2 linked regions of the Homo sapiens genome follow. The protein of the gene in region 1 interacts with the protein of each later gene in a pairwise test. Each region holds a gene or a part of one and is shown on either strand. Other genes may lie near its edges.

Region 1 (9,460 bases):
CAAAGGCGTGTTCCAGCCTTAGAAGCTGGGACGGGGAGAAGGCGGTTCGGATCCGCTTGGGCTTTCGGGCCAGCGCGTTGTGCAAAAGGAAACTCTCGGGGCTAGTGTCGTTCCCTGCGGGGAGCACAGCAGAAATCCCATTAGGGGGGGCTGCTCTGACCGGAGCCGCGCACTTCTCCCGAGCCGGGCTGGCCCGGCACCGTGCTCAGGGCCTTCGCATAGCCGCGCCGCTCGACCTGCGGGGGCCGGTGGTCCTCCCAAGGGCTCACGAAGGGAACGCCTGCTCAGCTGCCCGGCCCGGAACGCCGGGTCTCCACCGGTGCGGCACCCAACCAGCCGCTGTCGCAGAGGAGCCAGTCCCCAGGCTCCTGACCTCGGCCGGCTCCGCAGCCGCCCTGGCGCCGCGGGCCTCGCCACCTCCTCGCCGGGCGCTGGAGGCAGGGGAGGGAGCCGCAGAGCCTGGCCAGGGGATTGGCGCCCACAACCCGAAGAAACTACTTTCTCTTCTTTCTAACCTCTCGGGGAACTTTGACCCACGGTGGAAAGGCGGCGGGCTGCTCTCCAGAGTTTTCATGGAGATTTATTTTTAAATTATTTGTTTTATTGCCCCTCCGGAAAAGTATAGAGGCGGGGCGAGTCGTTGAAGCCCGATCGGGACAGAAATCTGGCCGGCGGGTGTGCTTGGCTACAGCCGCTGCTGCCTCTCGCGAACTGGGCTCCGGGGCTCCCGGCTCCCGAGAACTAGAAGAGAAACGCGAGCGAAGGGATCGAAACCCGGGGGGTTACCGACTTGCAGACACCGCCAGGACAGTCTGTAACGCAGGAAGATCCCAGCGGCTCCGGGTCTGGTGAGGGGACCATAAGCATGACTGATAGCGAATGAGGAAGGGCAGCCCTAAACTTTTCAAGCAAAGCCTCAGAGTTTTGGGTTCACTCATTAGCATAGGAAATCGATTCACCGAAAACCCAAACAAAGAAAAACAAGCCGACAGTCCAGGCAGGATGCAGGCAAATCCAGTTCGGGATTAAGGGTAAAAGGCTTTTTGGGTTTTTTTTCCTTTGGTTTGATTTTTTAAAATATGGGGAGGGGGGTGACATCTACCCGATTCTAGGCTCCGGCAGGAACGCAATGGGTTAATGAATGGACAAGCCGCGGAGTATTGATCGGCTGCCGCCGGAGGTAGGTCTTTTACTGACTCCAATCCGTAAACTAATTACTCCTTTTTCTGAAGTTTTAACTCTCCTCCTCCCACCCCGTACCCAGAGAAAAACAAACAAATAAAAAATATCGCAAGAAATGAAAACACACGAACAGATATTTCCCTCTAAGACAGTTTCCTGACCAGGTTCTTTTTTTTTTTTTTTAAAGAAAGAAAGAAAAACAAAAACCAGACCGAACCTGCCTTCCCGCTGTGGCTGCTCGGCGCCCCAATTAAGCAGGTCGCGGCGAGAGCGCCAAGCCCTGGAGCTTTCCTCCCGCACGGGTTCCCGCCCCTCCCCAGGCCTCCGAAAAGCAGGAAAGAAAAAACAAATCCCATACTTTTCTCCCGGGGCGCGAGGATCCTCTCGCCTCCAGAAGAGGGTGGAAGACTAAGAAGCCGCGGGTCTGGACTGAAGGGGCGCAAAGTGGGTGGTGAACAGGGTCGAACGCAGTCGAAAGCAAGCCTGGCGGCCGAGTCCTGTCCGCGCCCCTCGGAGCCAGGACGGTTGGGGGCATTGCCGAGGGTACCAGGAGCCTGGGGATCCCGCGGGCTCTGGGCTCCGCGGCGCCGGGCACGCACAGCCCAGCCTGCTCTGATTCGAGCGCACTGGGGGACAACTTCTCCGTTCGCACCCCTTCCCAAAGGGTCAAGCGGCCCGCAGGCCATCACTCCAAACCAGTCGTAGCTTCGGAGACTGGGGATCGACACCACGCCCGGCCCCGCGCCGCCTAGTTTCCCAACAGGGCGCGCTGGCCCGCGAGCCGGAGGAACCTCCGCCCAGGCCTTGCCAAGCGCCCACCCGGAGCAGGCCGGGGGCAGTGAAGGATGCGGCGGGAGCGGCGCGCTGCAGTTCCGCGACGTGGCACGTACCTTGGAAGCGATGACCCAGATATCGGTAGCGGTGGATGAGCCAGGGGTAGAAGGTGGACGGATCCCGCTGCTGCGAGGCGAATAGGGGGTGTGGCGAGTGCGAGGAGGGTAGGGGGTGGGCGGCCAGGGCGTGCGGCGGCGGCACCGGGTGCACTGGCACGGCGGGGTTGGGCGGGTGCGAGACCGCCTCGGCGAACACCAAGTCCGGGTTGGAGTAGACGCCCCTACCGGCGGCGGCGGCGGCGGCCGAGTGGAAGCCGTTGAGGAACGGATTTATGGGGCTGGAGTTAGCGTAGCTGAGTGCCGCGGGACGGATGGGGTCCTCGGAGCGCGAGGCGGGCAGGGGACTGTCCTTGGCCACCAGCGACTCGATGGTGAAGCAGCGCTTGGGCGCCGGCTGGAACATGCTGCGCCGAGGAGCGGGCGCCCTGGGCTCCCAGCTCCTGGCGACCGCCGCACGCTGCCTCCGCCGCCCGCTGCCCGCGGCGAGGACGGACGAGAATTGGGGACTCGTTTGTTTGGGGTGGGGGTGGGGGTGGGGGGAAGGAAAGGAAGAAAGAAAGGAAAGGAAAGGAAAAAGGAAAGGAGGGGGGAGGGAGAGGGAGAGGCAAAGCCGAGGATCCCGAGAATCTTGCACCAAACGCGCCCAACCTGAAGAGAGGGGGGAAAATCCTTCCAGAAGAATTTGCAGGCGTGGATTGGGGTAATTTTTTTTCTTTTTTTTTCTTTTTTTTTCTTTTTTTTTTTTTTTTTTTTTTTTGGCGAGATGGCGTGGGGGGATCGGAGTTAGAGGCAGGGAGGAGAAGGGGGGAAAGTTCTCGGGGGAGGCAAAAAAAAAAAAAAGTTTTTTCTCCTCTGCAAAAGGCGGGCAGGGCGCCCTAAGTCCAAGGACAATCCATGGAAGTGTTCGCTTCTTCACAAGTTGTGCAAACGATTTGTTAGTTCATGAGCCTAATTAGTGCGGGGATCACATAAACAGCTTCCTCCGAAGCCTGGTAAATGGCTTGATGATTGGTCGCTATTACTCGCCCTGAGGTGGAAGGGGGGAGACTCTTTAAAGTGCGTCAGAGGGAGGTGAGCGCCTGGGAACCCGGAGGCCTGGATCCGGGCCGAGAGTGGAACGGAGTCGGCGCCGCCGCCTCGGCTGAGCCTTCTGCCGCCCACCGGGCGGCCGGGCTTCTCCGCGCCTTCGCCCCTCGCTCCCAGCTCACTCGCTCCTGCGGCGCCCGCTGCGGCTTCTCCTCCTCCTTCGCCTCCTCCTCTTCCTCCAGTTTCTTCTTCTCCTCCTCCTCCTCTTCTTCCTCCTCCTCCTCTTCTTCCTCCTCCTCTTTCCCCACCTACTCCCCCTCAGCCACCGCCTCCTCCTCCACCAGCACCACTCCCTCCGGGGCACCCCGGTCCCTGCAGAGTCCCTGGCCGGCGCCGCCTCCGCTGCGGCCCCCTGAATCCCGAGCCTGCCTCGCCCAAGCTGGTAGGACAGAAGGACAGACAGATTCCTCTAGCCTAGCGCTCCGCCGCTGCTGCCTTACGCGGCCCCGCGTCGGGAGAACTGGGATCGCCCCAAGAGCACCGCGAGGGTAAGCGGGCAGGGGCTGGTTCCCGGGCTAAAGGCGCCGTTCGGTTATACCAATCCCCACACTTAGCAAAACTCCCAGCGGTTTCCTAGGCCAGGAGGGATCCTGGAGTGAGGGGTACGGGGTCCTCCCACCCCATCAACCACGCTTAGCCTCGAGGTCCCAGGGTCGGTGCGTTCGCGATTCTTGACCCGGCTCGTTCGTTTGCGAGTTGAGACCGGGAGCTGCCGACCCCGCCGGAGCAGTGGGCTTCCAACTCTCTCCCTCTCTCGCCCCACGGTCTCTAGCGTTTTCTGTCTGGGAGGGTGCTCACCTCCTTCCCCAAAACAATTCCTTCTGGAATATCTGGGACCGGCAGTCCAAGGTCAGGGGAGAGCCCGATATGGTGCTACTGTACTATTAAGGTTCCGTCGTAATTATTTTTGTCAGTGTGGTCAATGTTATTATTATTATAGATGATATTATTTTATTATTATTATTTCTATTATTATTATTATGCCATCTGTTGTCCCGGGGTTGGTGGGGGGGTGGTGGTTGCTGTGCAAACCCAGTGCAACTAACGACTACGGATCGCATCTCCGGTCCCGGGCCGTGTCCGCATTTTCGAGCTCGCCTTCGGTTTTGGGATGATTTTAGGACCGAGTTCCCTCGTCCCCATTGGCTCGCGCGGCGGCATAATTATGATCACATCCCCAGGCTGCTGGCGCTGCTCTCTGTTTATTGGTGGTTAAAGATCTATTATCTATTCATCAGCCGCCTCTTTTTTCCTTTTTTTCCTTTTGCCAATTACATTCTTCTAAAGTGAAGTACCAGCAGGTATTTTGCACGTTTACAATTAATGATAAAAAAAAATTCTAGCGTCGTTTAAAACTATTACTCCCAGGCCCCTGTCATTTCTCCTAAGAACGCAGAATTGCCTGTGTTTGGTGACTAGGTTGCCGTGAAACCTGGGAAGCCGATGGCAATGGGAGGAGAAGAGTGAAGTCCACCGTGAGCCAGGCTGCACTGCCACCAGATGCATAGTTGAGGGGACAGGTCTCAGGACGAGCTACCTGCTTCCTCCCTTGGTTTCATCTGGTGTATATTTATGTTTGTGTCAATTACTCCTTTATTCCAGATATAATGTTGTGTTGGGGCAAGTGTCCAAAAACCTCTTTTGGGAAACCAGGCAAGAGAGGAGTTGGGAGCAGTGTTTTCCGGGGTTGTCAGGGCACCAGACAGATTCGTGAGGAACTGGCAGAGATCATCTTTGTTGCCCCCACCCCACACCTTCCCAGGGAACACACATACACATCTTCACAGATGAGACAGGTGTGCGCCTCAGCTTTGCCCTCACAGTGGGAGACACCTGCCTTTCCCTTAGGCTTCGAAGTTCTGGGCTGGGGTCCTAGCCCAGTATTGTCCCTCTGTCAGTTCCAGGTGGCTTTGCTTTCTCCTCCTCCCCTTTTTCCAGGCCCAAAGATTCTGGGCTTTGGATCCAGCCCTTGGGGTAGGGGTGCACTTAAAGATGCACCTCCCTTGGGCCTGGACCACTGTCCCCCAAAATATTGTCTACAGTTTGGAAATCCCTCTCTCAATTAGGCTGTGAGGTTACAGGCCTCTCCTCTAACCCCAGCTAGGCCAGCAGGGAGCCTGAAGACATGGCAGAGGGGGGAGGTCTTTTGGCTGTGCCCAGCCAGTAAGCTTAGGGTGGAGCTAGAGGTCCGCCCTCAGGTTTTTGAGGCTGGAAACAAACACTCAGCTTAGGCAGACTGTGCATCCTGAATCCTGGCAAGCAGGAGAGTGCACCTTTCATGCAAACTTCAGAAGGAGGACTGGAGGGCCAGATTCTGGCAGTGCCCTCAGGCCAGACCCTCCAAACTCAGCCTGAGACTCAGAGGTTGCAAACTGGAGCCACTGAAACTCCACCCTTAGTGATCTTGGATGGGGGCATAAAAGTCATTGACCTTTAGGGCAACAGGTATCCAGTCTGTCTGGGAGATTGGGTGAGACCCAGATGGTTTGTGATGTATAAGGGTGATGGGTGCCTTCCCTCTTTTAAAACTTGCAGCCCTGGGCGCTAAGGTGCAATCATTATTCCCTTAACCAGGACAGTGTTGGGCTGGAGATGGGACCCCTCAGCCTTCTGCCCCAGGCAGGGACATCTGGCTGCAGTAGAGGGGTAGAGTGCTCCACAGTCCCACTTCAGTCAGTCGGCATCCTCTGCAGGCTACCTGCCTTTTATAAACTGCCCTTCTGTGGCCAGGTTTGCCCCAGGGGCTCTAGCTAGCCAACACGTAGGCAGGGGTAAAGGGGCAGCAGGATCTGAGATCTGGTGTCCCCCTTCCTGAAGGAACCAGGATATGCTAGTTCCTCTGCTCCAAGTGCTGCTAGACCCGAGCTGCACTCCAGCCCCTTGAAGGAGAAGCAGGTTTCCAGTGAGTCGGGCAGTTCAGAACCCCAGAAGCTGGGTAATCTATGCTAATTCATGCATGGGTAATCTATGCTAATTCCCGGGGCCAGAAGGGCCCGGGAAGGTTCGCGGGGTCTGGCCCCGATGTGCAGGGAAATTAACTAGGATAGTAACTCATTAACCAGACTGGCCAGTGGAGTCGTGCCAGGGCACTGGGCACTGTGGTCTGGACTGGACCCTAAGCTCCTAGATGGCGCAGCTGCCCTGCCACTCAACTTTACTTGTGGATTTAGGCCTTGCAGAATACAGCCACCTTTGTTCCTTAGCTGCCCAAGGAGTGGGTGTTTGGTTAAGTAGCCCTGCGTGGAGTGGGAGATGTGGGGATTTCTGAGGCTCCAGCTTAGAGCAAGGGGCTTCCTCCCTCTGCCCCATGTGTGCCCCAAGCCACTGCTGCCTCTTGGGCTCTGTAGACTGAGGAATCTACCTTTCCAGGTAGCTGGACTAGCAGACACATTCAAACGTTCTAATTCCGAATCTGTCACTGAATGACCTTGGGCAACACAGAAACCTCCCCACCTCATTTTGTCATATGTAAAAATACAGCCAATGCTGTCTGGGAGGCAGTGGGGAGTAGCAGTGGGCTTGTTTTGGAGAAAGATAGAACTATCCTACTTCCTGATTGTGGTGGTATTTACATGACTCTATGTGTTTTTCAAAACTCACAGAACCATATACTACAAAGGGTGAGTTTTACTATATGTAATTATACTTTAATACACCTGCCCCCATCCCCCAAGATGAGAGACTTGCATTTACAGCTTAACTGTGTGACCTTGGGCAAGTTACCTAACTTCTCTGTGCCTCGGTTTTCTCTTCTCTGAAATGGGAATAAATAATATAGTACCTTTGCTCTGGGTTTGTTCAATGAGATAAACAAAGTAAAGTGCTTAGACAGTGTCTGGCACATAATGAACTACAATAAAAGTTTGCTCCTGTCCTTGATGCTGCTATTACATACCCACCTCCAAGGCTTGTTACTGGGTTTCAGAGTCTGTGAACAATATAGCTGTACAAACATCAGCTAATGCTGACACTCCTGCCACACTCCTCCGTGCTCCCCCAAAAGCTGAGAGCTTTTCTAGGGAGATTTTGGGGTGAGCAAGGCCTGGAGTCCTGGCTCCTTGGTTGGTGTCAAAGGGCGGAGACTCCTGGGGATCTCTGATAAGCATCTGCTAGGAGTTTCCTGCAAGGTGCCCCCGGGCTTCAAAGGAGCAAAGGGCAGTGCTTCACTATAGCTGCGCTCCGTGCTAGGCCTGTGAGGTACCTGGGGTGGGTGCATGGCCTCCTGCAACTGAGAATAGGTGTGTGGGAGCTGTCTGGGGTCACCACCTGTGTGACTTTCACCTTCTTAAGCCACGGTTGACTCATCTGTGAAAAGGAAATAGCGATGTGTTAACGGTTGTTGAGAGAGTGAGTGAGCTCATATTTAGCACACTGTTAGCGTTCATCACATTTTAGTTATTGCTAGGCCATGGCCTTGTGCCGTCGAAGCTACCCGCTGCACTCTGCCACGTCCTGGTCCCTGATCGCCGAGGTTCTGGTCCTCACGTTGAACCAGAATGCTGAGCCCGCCCTGTGCTCCCGCGGCTCGCCGCGGACCGCACCGACGCCCGTGAAGGGCGAGCCCTTTCCCGGCCCGAGGCGCGAGAATGGTGTCCCGAGTTGGAAAGGCCTCGGGGGCGTTAAGAATTCCTCCAACCCACTGAGATCCCCAGTCACGCCGGCCTCTCCGAACGCGCAGGGTGGCGGTGAGAAAACGAAAAGTATAATTAATGCCCTAAAAACATTTTTTAAAAATTATTACGACAAATCCCTTTCTGGCGTCTTCCCCAGAGGCCTCTCGCCAGGCGGGCGCGGCGACCCGGGGCCCCGATCGGCGTGAGCGCAGCGGCGCCTAGTGGCGAGGGCCGGGCGCGGGCGCGGTACCCACCGCGCCCCCGAGCCCGAGGGCGGGGGAGCGCTGGGGTCGCGCCACACTGCCAAAGTCTCGCCTAGGCCGTCATCCAGGCCAGTGGAGGGGTTAAAGGAGGCTCACTGGCTACGGAGGAGCCCGGATGGCTTGGAAGTGCGTCCCTCCTGCCTCCATCAGCTCCAGCTCTTGGCTTGAGAGTTCGCCACCCACGCTGGAATTCCAGCTCCAGTAGGCTTCCTTCCGAAGGGGGCGCAGAGGTGGGCTGGAGTGGGACAGGTTCTGCTCTAAGAAGGACTAGGAAGCCGTGATCACCTGTGCAGCCACAATTCCATGCCTGAGGTCCCATATTTCGCGGCCCAACCCAGGTGGTTCAGAGAACAGGCCTTGGACGGCCTGCGCGGGCCCTGCCTGGGGTGGAGTAGGAAGAGCTGGGGTCCCGGGGTGCGACTCTCTCAGATCCGCGCCCCCTCGCGGCTGGCTGAAGACGCCCGACACAGGGGGTCCTTGGTTTTGGCAGGGGTGGCGATTGATTACCACACACTCCTAGCAGCGCACATTGACTAGCCCATTCCTCTCGGAGCGCGCGGACCCCATCCATCCCGGGGCAGCCTGGCTCCTCCGGTGATGTGGGGCCGTGGAATCCGCTTGGGCTTCACTGGAAACCCGTGTCATAGCAAGGCGGCCTGGGACCGGCGCCCTCAGCATAACTGCTTGGAGCTCCGAGCCCTTGCGGCAGGGTTTTGACCCTGGCCCTGGGCTCCGCGGGTGGCTGCAGGGGCGCTGTCCTCCTCTGGACATCCGCGCGAACCTCTGCGTCTCCGGAGATCTATCCGTTTTGAGACCCAATGTTTCAGTGACGCATGGAGCCACTGGCAGGACCCCACCGTCGGGTTTTATCTCCTTCATCACGTTGAAACTCGTCACTCCCTCACCACACACACGCTGTCTCGATTCATTATTGAAAGCAAGGAAACAGAACCAAAGGGGTTTGCAGTTTCTTTCTCCCTCAGCTGCCTTCAAATGAAAGCCTAGGACCGAGCAAGGACTGGGAGGGACAGACAGACGTACACACAGACGGTGGTGCAGGAGCTAGGGAAGAAGTACACTCTCTAGTTCGGGCGCCAGCCCGGGATAGGGATGAAGACAGTTGCGTCTCCCTTGCACTCTCTCGGGATGGAGGGTGGGTGGGAGCGTGGCAAGTCCTTCCCATCGCCCCCAAAGCTACATCTCTATGAGCCCACCAGAGCGTGCACCGGCTCCTGAGTTCCCAGAGGACCAGCATGGGGAGCGAAGCGGGGCGCACCTTCCACGCCTCTGCAGCGCTTTCTGGCTTTTCGTGTTTGAGGCTCTGCTCTCTGCCACTGATAGCCCGGCCGGCCTTTTAACTTGGAGTCTGGTCCTCGCCCGACAATGTAAGGCGCTACTTGGGTTTGTCAGCGTCCATCTAGGA
Region 2 (8,443 bases), on another chromosome or scaffold:
ACGAGGCATCTTGTCCCTTTGAGTTGCCCCCTGGTCAGCCTATTCCTCCTTGTATAGACAGTGACTCTTTCTTGACCCAGCCCCCTTTCCTGCCCTTCTCTCCACCCAACTCCACCCCTGCCAGGACCCCTTCCCCAGACTGTAGCCCAGTTCCCAAACAGCTTCCCTTCCCAAGCCAGGCCCCCTTCCTCTCCTTCTCCAGCCTGCCCCAGCTGGGCCACCTTCTCCTACCAGGAACCCTTCACCAGTCCATGCCCCAGCCTCCAGCCTGGACCCTTTGCAGGCATCCTCCCTCAGCCAGGACTTCTTTCCTAGCCTGTGCCCCCGCTACCCAGCTGGGCCTCTTTGTCCATGAAGGTCCCCTACCCTAGCCAGGCCTCTTCTTTTAGCTTGTCACCCCCTTCCCTGACCCTATGCAGCCCACTGAAGTAGAGCACCTTTCCCATTTCTAGAGCCCTTCAGCAGTCTTTGCCCCTGTCCCCAGTCAGCAACCACCACCCCGCCACCCGCAACAGGCCTATGCTCCCTAACCCTCCAGGATTCCTTTGCTTAAGTAGATCCTGGGATATAAACTCTATATGAAGTTAGCTACACAAAAACAGAGAAGCAGGTATTTTTTAAATGGTTTTTATTTTTGAACAAACTACATGTTTAAAAACTTTCAAAAACATATATATTTTATCTTAGAGCATTTGGAATGTAGAAAGAATTTCCAAAATTAATCTCACTGAATTACAGAAAGTAAAGATTAAAATTTTCATAAGTTGTTGACTGTAAATCATTTCATTTTATATTCTTTTGGAAAATTCAAGGATATTAACAAGTCTCAAATAACAAAAGTATATTGTTCACTTTTGATGTAACAAAATAGAATAAAACTTTAATATTTTAAAGAATCTTTTTAGATATTTCTGTATCTCTAAGAAATAAGGAAAGTTGTTACATTCATATCTTTCACACTTCATACCAGATGATATAACAAGGTCAATCAAGTACTTGAATAAATTCATACACCTTTATATCTCTAAGAATAAAGGAAACTTACTCGATTCAGATCTTCACCCCTTAGAGTAAGTAAATTACCTATCAATGTGTCTCTTTTTTCTTTATACCAGTTGTAAAGATAATGAAACGTATCAACTATTTGAATAAAGTCCTATCTCTTCCTACCTTTAGTAAAGGAAATTAAGTTCAGATCTTTCACATCTTAGAGTAAACCTTATCTAGCCTATCAGTTTATCTAAATTTACTTTATCTATTTAACAGATTTACCTTACATGTTTTAACAAATGCTGTTATTTAGAATTAGCAAACATGGGAGAAACTAAAATTAATTAGGAACCACACAAGTTTTGATGAAAAGAAAACAAAACAAAGTACTAGCGGATCTCTTGTTCATAACTTGAGACATCTCCTGAGTAGTCTAGCTTAAGTAAATAGCAAACCATGGCAATCTTTCCCCCCAAAACTCAGCAAAAGGCCTTCACAAGGCATTTTGATCACATAAACTCCAATTTTGTCTAAGTAATCCAAGACATTCATAGGAAAACCTGAAGACTCCCCGAGCTAGTCTACTAGATTTATTTTTCCCAGAACACATGAAACTTAACATTTCCTTTTTTTCTTTTTTTTTTTTTGGAGACGGAGTCTCGCTGTCTTCCATGCTGGAGTGCAGTAGTACGATCCCGGCCCACTGCAGCCTCCGCCTCCCGGGTTCAGTTGATTCTCCTGCCTCAGCACCCCAAGTAGCTAGGATTACAGGCCCCCGCCAACCTGCCTGGCTAATTTTTCATTTTTTTGAGACGGAGTCTCACTGTCTTCCACGCTGGAGTGCAAAGGCACGATCTCGGCTCACTGCAACCTCCGCTTCCCGTCAAGCGATTCTCCTGCCTTAGCCTCCCGAGTATCTGGGACTACAGGTGCCTGCCACCACGCCCGGCTAATTTTTGTATTTTTTGTAGAGGTGGGGTTTCACCATGTTGGCCAGGCTGGTCTCGAACTCCTGACCTCGTGATCCGCCCGCCTCGGCCTCCCAAAGTGCTGGGATTACAGGCGTGAGCCACCGCGCCCGGCCAATATTTCCATTTTTGTGGTGAAGTTATACGCAACATGACCAAATCTTAGTTGGTGAGGGAGGTAAAAGACCCTTAAGGGCAAGAAGAGGTTAGAACTTTCAAATTTATGCCCCTCTGGTGGTGCAATGCAGAGATTTCCCTCATATTTCCGGGGAATTTCCCTCGAATTTCGTTTCCCACCCTGTGAAAGCAGCAAGGTTAGGAAAGCGGGGGCGGGGCGGGGGCGGGTAGTTTTGATTAAAAGGAAGGAAAAGAAAAACAGAGAAAAGCAAAAGGGGAAAATAAACTGAGCCTACTGAGGAGATGCGGCGACGGCGACAGTTTCCCGGGGCTGCTCAGCGCCTTGGGGCCTACAGGAGACGCGGGAGCACGCCCCCGGCGGCGCCGGCCTCGAGCGGTGTCACGGAGTTGTAGTGCTCGCCGAGGCTGTAGGCATAGCGCAGGTAGACCAGGATGATCGGCTTCTTGACGTACTCCTCCCCGATGATCAAGGTGGGCGAGTCGGCCTGGATCACCTCGATGGGGGTCTTCAGGACGTGCGACAGGGCCCTCAGCTCCAGCTGGCCTCCCCATGCCGTGGTGCGCACGATGTTGTCGCAGTAGATCATGAAGTCGTCGTAGCCGAAGGAGTCGCTGGTCTCGGGGTTGCTGAAGAAGGGCAGGAACTCGTCGACGTGCTTCTTCATGTAGCTGGCGGTGCGGCAGCGCAGCATCTCCACAGACACGCTGAACACCAGCTGGTCTTGGATGGCGCGGTACATGCAGTGGCCGTCGGCCGGGATCGCTTTCATCTCCAGACCCCTGGCTCCCAGGATGGCGGCGAGCTTCTCCTCCTCCTCGCGCTTGAAGCCGGCCAGGTGCTCCGACATCTCAGCCTGGAAGATGCTCTCCTGGCGCTCCCTCTCCTCGGACTCCATTCTTTCTCTCTTTCTGTGGGCTTTGGAGGAGCGGGGAGGCCGGTTTTCCAGATTCATCTTGGCCAGGTCTTCGACGACAGATTCAATGCTACTGTCGTCTTGGAACTTCTCCAGCTCCTGCCGGTGCTTCTGAGCCATCTCGGCCTCCATGCGGGCCACGTCTTGGAGCAACTGCTTTCTTTTCGTCTTGTCGGTCTTGGGGACCGAGTTTTTTAAGCTCCGGATCTGGGCCTGCAGCTCCTGCCTCTCGCGTTGGTGGCGGCGCAGTATGCGCTGCTGTTCACTCTTCGGATCATCCATGATGTTGAATGGCAAGCGGGAGTTGAAATTTGCTGGCAGTTCAAGTACCGAACAGACCAGAAGTCCTCAGCCTGTCCTAACGGTCGCTCTCTTTCACCTCACCGGCTCTAACCGCCGCTCTAGGCTCACCTCAGCCTCCGCTTCCCCTCCCCCATTCGCATTCTTCTCTGCCTTTGGTCACTGTGTCTCCATGGCCACGCCCCCGCAAGTGCTAGGCCACTTGCTGGGCCACCCGCAAATGCCCAGTGCTAGGATTGGCTGTTGGGAGACCGGAAGTATGAGCCCATTGGACCCCACAGCAAAGGTTTTTGGCGGGATTCAAATATGGCCTTCCTGCAATGTGTGTGGCAGTTGGGCCTGTAGAGTCTTTCGCTGATTGAGAGCCGACTTCATTTCCAAGTCTGCACACAATGCAGGCAGTAGCCATGCCTGACAGCCACATGACAGATACTACACCGCTGAATGTGCTCTAACCCTGGACTTGGCATTGCCCCTACTGTTGAGGAAGCAGTGCGTTTTTCTCCAGTCTTTCAGGTCCCTTCACCAGGGAACCATTAACTTGTGCATCAGAACAAGGACATTTCCTTACATTCCTGCAAACACAGTCCTTTCAGTTTACTCTTTTTTTGAGGGGGGGGCGCGGGGAACGGAGTCTCGCTCTGTCGCCCAGGCTGGAGTGCAATGGTGCAATCTCAGCTCACTGCAACCTCTGCCTCCCAGGTCCAAGCGATTCTCCTGCCTCAGCCTCCCGGGTAGCCGGGACTACAGGCGCCTGCCACCACGCCCGGCTAATTTTTGTATTTTTAGTAGAGACGAGGTTTCGCCGTGTTGGCCAGGCTGGTCTTGGAACTCCTGACCTCAGGTGATTTACTCGCCTCGGCCTCCCAAAGTGCTGGCATGAGCCACTGTGCCCAGTCACAAGTTTTTATTTTAGCCATTTTGATAAGTGTGAAGTTCCCTGATGGCTAATGATGTTCCTTTTTTCATGTGCTCATTTGTCATCTATGCCATATCCTTTTCAGTAAAATGTTTATGTCATTTGCCTATTTTCTCTCTCTTTTTTTTGGGGGGGGTGGAGTCTAGCTCTGTCACCGAGGGTGGAATGCAGTGGCGTGATCATGGCTCATTGCAGCCTCAAACTCCTGGGCTCAGGCTCAGGTGATCCTCCTGCCTCAACATCCTGAGTAGCTGGGACTACAGGCACCACCATACTTGGCTAATTTTGGGGAATTTTTTTTTTTTTTTTTTTTTTGCCAGATGCGGTGGCTCACGCCTGTAATCCCAGCACTTTGGGAGGCCAAGGTGGGAGGATGTCTTGAGGTCAGGAGTTCCAGACCAGCCTGGGCAACATGGTGAAGCCCTAACTCTACTAGAAATACAAAAATTAGCCAGGTGTGGTGGTGTGTGCCTGTAGTCCCAACTACTCCTGGGGGCTGAGGTGGGAGGATAGCTTGAGCCTGGGAAGCAGAAGTTGTAGTGAGCCAAGATAGCGGCACTGCACTCCAGTCTGGGCTCAAGTGGTCCTCCACCTCTGCCTTCCAAAGTGCTGGGATTACAGATGTGAGACACCATGCTCAGCCCTTCATTTGCCTATTTTCTTTCTCTCTCTCTCACTCTCTTTCTTCCTCTCTCTCTCTCTCTTACTCTCTTTCTTCTTCCTTCCTTGGTTTCCTTCCTTCCTTTTTTTTTCTTTTTTTTTTTGAGACGGAGTCTTGCTCTGTCACCCAGGCTGGAGTGCAGTGGCATGATCTCGGCTCACTGCAGCCTCCAGCTTCTGGGTTCAAGCAAGTCTCATGTCTCAGCCTCCTGAGTAGCTGGGACTACAGGCGCACACCACCACACCCGGATACTTTTTGTATTTTTAGTAGAGACAGGGTTTCACCATGTTGGCCAGGCTGGTCTTGAACTCCTGAGTTCAAGCGATCCCCCTGCCTTGGCCTCTCAAAGTGCCGGGATGACTACACACACCACCATATCCAGCTAACTTTTTTTTTTTTTTTTTTTTTTTTACTTTTTGTAGAAACGGGGCCTCACTATGTTGCTCAGGCTGGTTTCGAACTCCTGGGCTCAAGCGAGCCTCTCACCTCAGCCTCCCAAAATGCTGAGATTACAGGCGTGAGCCACCGCGCCTGGCCAGGATTTTTGTAGGAATCGTGTTCAAGCTGAATATCAATTTGGGGAGAATTGACATCTTTACTATGTTGAGTCTTCCAGTCCTTGAACACCTGGGTATGTATCTCCATTTACGTAGATCTTCATTGATTTCTTTCAGTGACACTGCATGATTTTCAGCATATAAATCCTGTGCATATTTTGTTAGATTTACACTTAAGCATTTCTCTTTTTTTGAGTGATTGTAAATGGTATTGTATTTTTATAATGTGAACATTTACAATGTTCACATGGTCATTGCTAGTATATAAAAATACAATTGACTTTTTTTGTTTATCTTGTGTTCTGTGACCTTGCTTAACTAGCTAATTATTTCTAGGAGGTTTTTTCCCCCCTTGATTCCTTGGAATTTTCTATGTAGGCAATCATGTCATCTGTGAATAGGGACAGTTTTATTTCATCCTTTCCAGTAAGTATGTCTTTTATTTCCTTTTCTTGCCTTATAGTGCTGATTAGAACTTCCAGCACTATGTTGGATAAGAGTGGCAAGGGCAGACATCCTTGTTTTGATCTTGATTTTAGGAGGAAAAGAATTTCATCTTTCACTGATAAGTATGATGTTAGCTGTAGGATTTTGTAAATGTTATTTATCTAGTTGAGGCCTTTCCCATCTATTCCTATTTTTCTGAGAGTTTTTGACATGAATGGGTATTAAATGTTGTCAATGTTTTTTCTGTATTGATATGCCAATATGATTTTTCTTCTATAACCTATTAATATGATAGACTATAGTGATTGATTTTTAAGTATTAAGCTAGTCTTGCATTTCAGAAATCAACCTGATTTGGTCATAGTTTATCATTATTTTTATATGTTGAGGAATTCTTTTGGTAATTTAAAAAAGGATTAAAAAAAATCTATGTTCATGAGAGGTATTGGTCTGCAGTTTTCTTTTTTGGTACTGTTTTGTTTAGTTTTAGTGTCAGGGTAAATACTAACTTCACAAGAAGAGGAGGGAAGTGTTCCTTCCTCTTCTATTTTTTTGGAAAGAGATTGTGTAAAATCAGTAATAATTCTTCTTTAAACATTTGATAGGATTCTCCAGTGAAACCATCAGGGCCAAGAGATCACTTTCTTGGGAGTTTTAAAATTAAAAAAAAGTTTTCCTTAATAGGACTAATCAAATTATATATTTCATATTGAGTGAATTTTGGTAGCTTGTGTTTTTTGAGGAATTGGTCCATTTATTCTGAGTAGTCAAATTTATGTGTGCAGAATTATTTGTAGTATTCCATTTTTATTGTTTGATGTTGGGAGGATTTATAGTGGTATTCCCTGCTTTATTGGTAATTTGTGTTTCCTCTTTTGTTCTTTGTCAGTCTTGCTAAAGATTTGTCAATTTTATTGATCTTTTCAAAGAACTAGCATGTTGTCTTATTGATTTTCCCCATTGATTTTCTGTTTTAGATTTCATTAGTTTATGCTATTTATTATATTCTTCCTTCTGCTTGCTTTGGGTTTAGTTTGCTCTTCTTTTGCTAGGTTCTTGAGGTGGGAGCTTGAATAATTGCTTTCAGACTTTTTCTCTTTTTCCAAAGTATACGCTTAGTGATATAAACTTCCTTCTCAGTACTACTTTAACTGGTTCTCCCATGTTTTGATATGTTTAGTTTTCATTATCCTTCAGTTCAATGTACTTTTTGGTTTTCCTTGAGACTTTTTGGCCCATGGATTATTTACAAGTGAGTTATTAGCTTCCAAGTGTTTGTAGGTTTTCCTGTTATCTATTAATGATTTCTACTTTGATTCTGATATGGTTTGGGTCTGTGTCCCTGCCCAAACCTCATGTTGAATTGTAATACCCTCTGTTGGAGGCGGGGCCTGTGGGAGGTGATTGGATCATGGGGGGCAGATTTCTCATGAGTGGTTTAGCACCATCCTCTTGGTACTGTCCTTGAGATTGTGAGTGAGTTCCTGTGAAATCTAGTTGTTCAAAAGTGTGTGGCACCTCCCCTCATCTCTTTCTTGCTCCTTCCTCCATGATTGGAAGTGTCCTGAGATCTCCCTAAAAAGCAGAAGCTGCTATGCTTCCTGTACAGCCATCAGAACCATGAGCCAATTAAACCTCTTTTCTCTTTTGTTTATAACTTACCCAATCTCAGGTATTTTTCCTTTTTTTTTCTTTTTGAGACAGTCTCGCTCTGTCACCCAGGCTAGAGTGCAATGGCGTGATCTCGGCTCACTGCAACCTCTGCGTCCTGGCTTCAAGTGATTCTCCTGCCTCAGCCTCTAGCAGCTAATTTTTGTATTTTTAGTAGAGATAGGTTTTCGCCATGTTGGCCAGGCTGGTCTTGAGCTCCTGACCTCAAGTAATCCACCCGCCTCCGCCTCCCAAGGTGCTGGGATTACAGGCATGAGCTACCGCTCCTGGCCCAGCCGGTATTTCTTTATATATAGCTATGCAAGAATAGCCTAACACAGATTCCTTTGTGGTTAGAGAACACATTTGTATATGATTTCAATTCATTTAAATTTGTTAGGGTTTGTTTAGTTTATGGCCCAGAGTATGGCCTATCTTAATATATGTTCCATGGGCACTTTAAAGAATTCATGTTTTGCTCCTGTTGGGTGGAGTGCTCTAAAAATGTTGTTTAGATCCCAGTGGTTCATGATGTTGTTCAATTCTTTTATATCTTGCTGATTTTCTGTCTAATTCTTATGTTTATTGTTGAGAGAGGAGTTTTGAAGTCTCTGACTGTAATTGTAGCCTTTTCTATTTCTCCTTTCAGCTCTATCAGGCTTAGCTTTTCATATTTTGCACCTCTGTTGCAAATCCTACACATTTTAGGATCTTTGTATCTTCTTGGTATATCCATCCTTTGATCATTATTGGAAGTCTAGTCTCCCCACTCAGTCTTTGCTGGTGGGGGTGGGGCCACAGTTGTTTTTTTCTCTGGTTATGGCTGGCATAGAGTGATTATTGTCTAAAACTTTTCTGTCTTGCTAGGCTAATTCATTCCTAATCCCTTGGCTGGAGAA

Evidence for each region.
Region 2: the proteins of EMX2 (region 1) and OTUD6A interact in binary tests that used the Homo sapiens proteins (3 or more experiments, as listed by UniProt).

What each region holds. Positions count from the first base shown.
Region 1 is NC_000010.11:117,536,286-117,545,745, reverse strand, and holds the start of EMX2 (homeobox protein EMX2), read right to left. Parts: upstream 3,001-9,460; 5' UTR 2,479-3,000; coding exon 2,073-2,478; intron 1,441-2,072; exon of another isoform or gene 1,370-1,440; intron 1,181-1,369; exon of another isoform or gene 678-1,180; intron 115-677; coding exon 1-114. UniProt on the Homo sapiens protein: Transcription factor, which in cooperation with EMX1, acts to generate the boundary between the roof and archipallium in the developing brain. May function in combination with OTX1/2 to specify cell fates in the developing central nervous system.
Region 2 is NC_000023.11:70,057,374-70,065,816, reverse strand, and holds OTUD6A (OTU domain-containing protein 6A), read right to left. Parts: upstream 3,361-8,443; 5' UTR 3,293-3,360; coding exon 2,426-3,292; 3' UTR 1,638-2,425; downstream 1-1,637.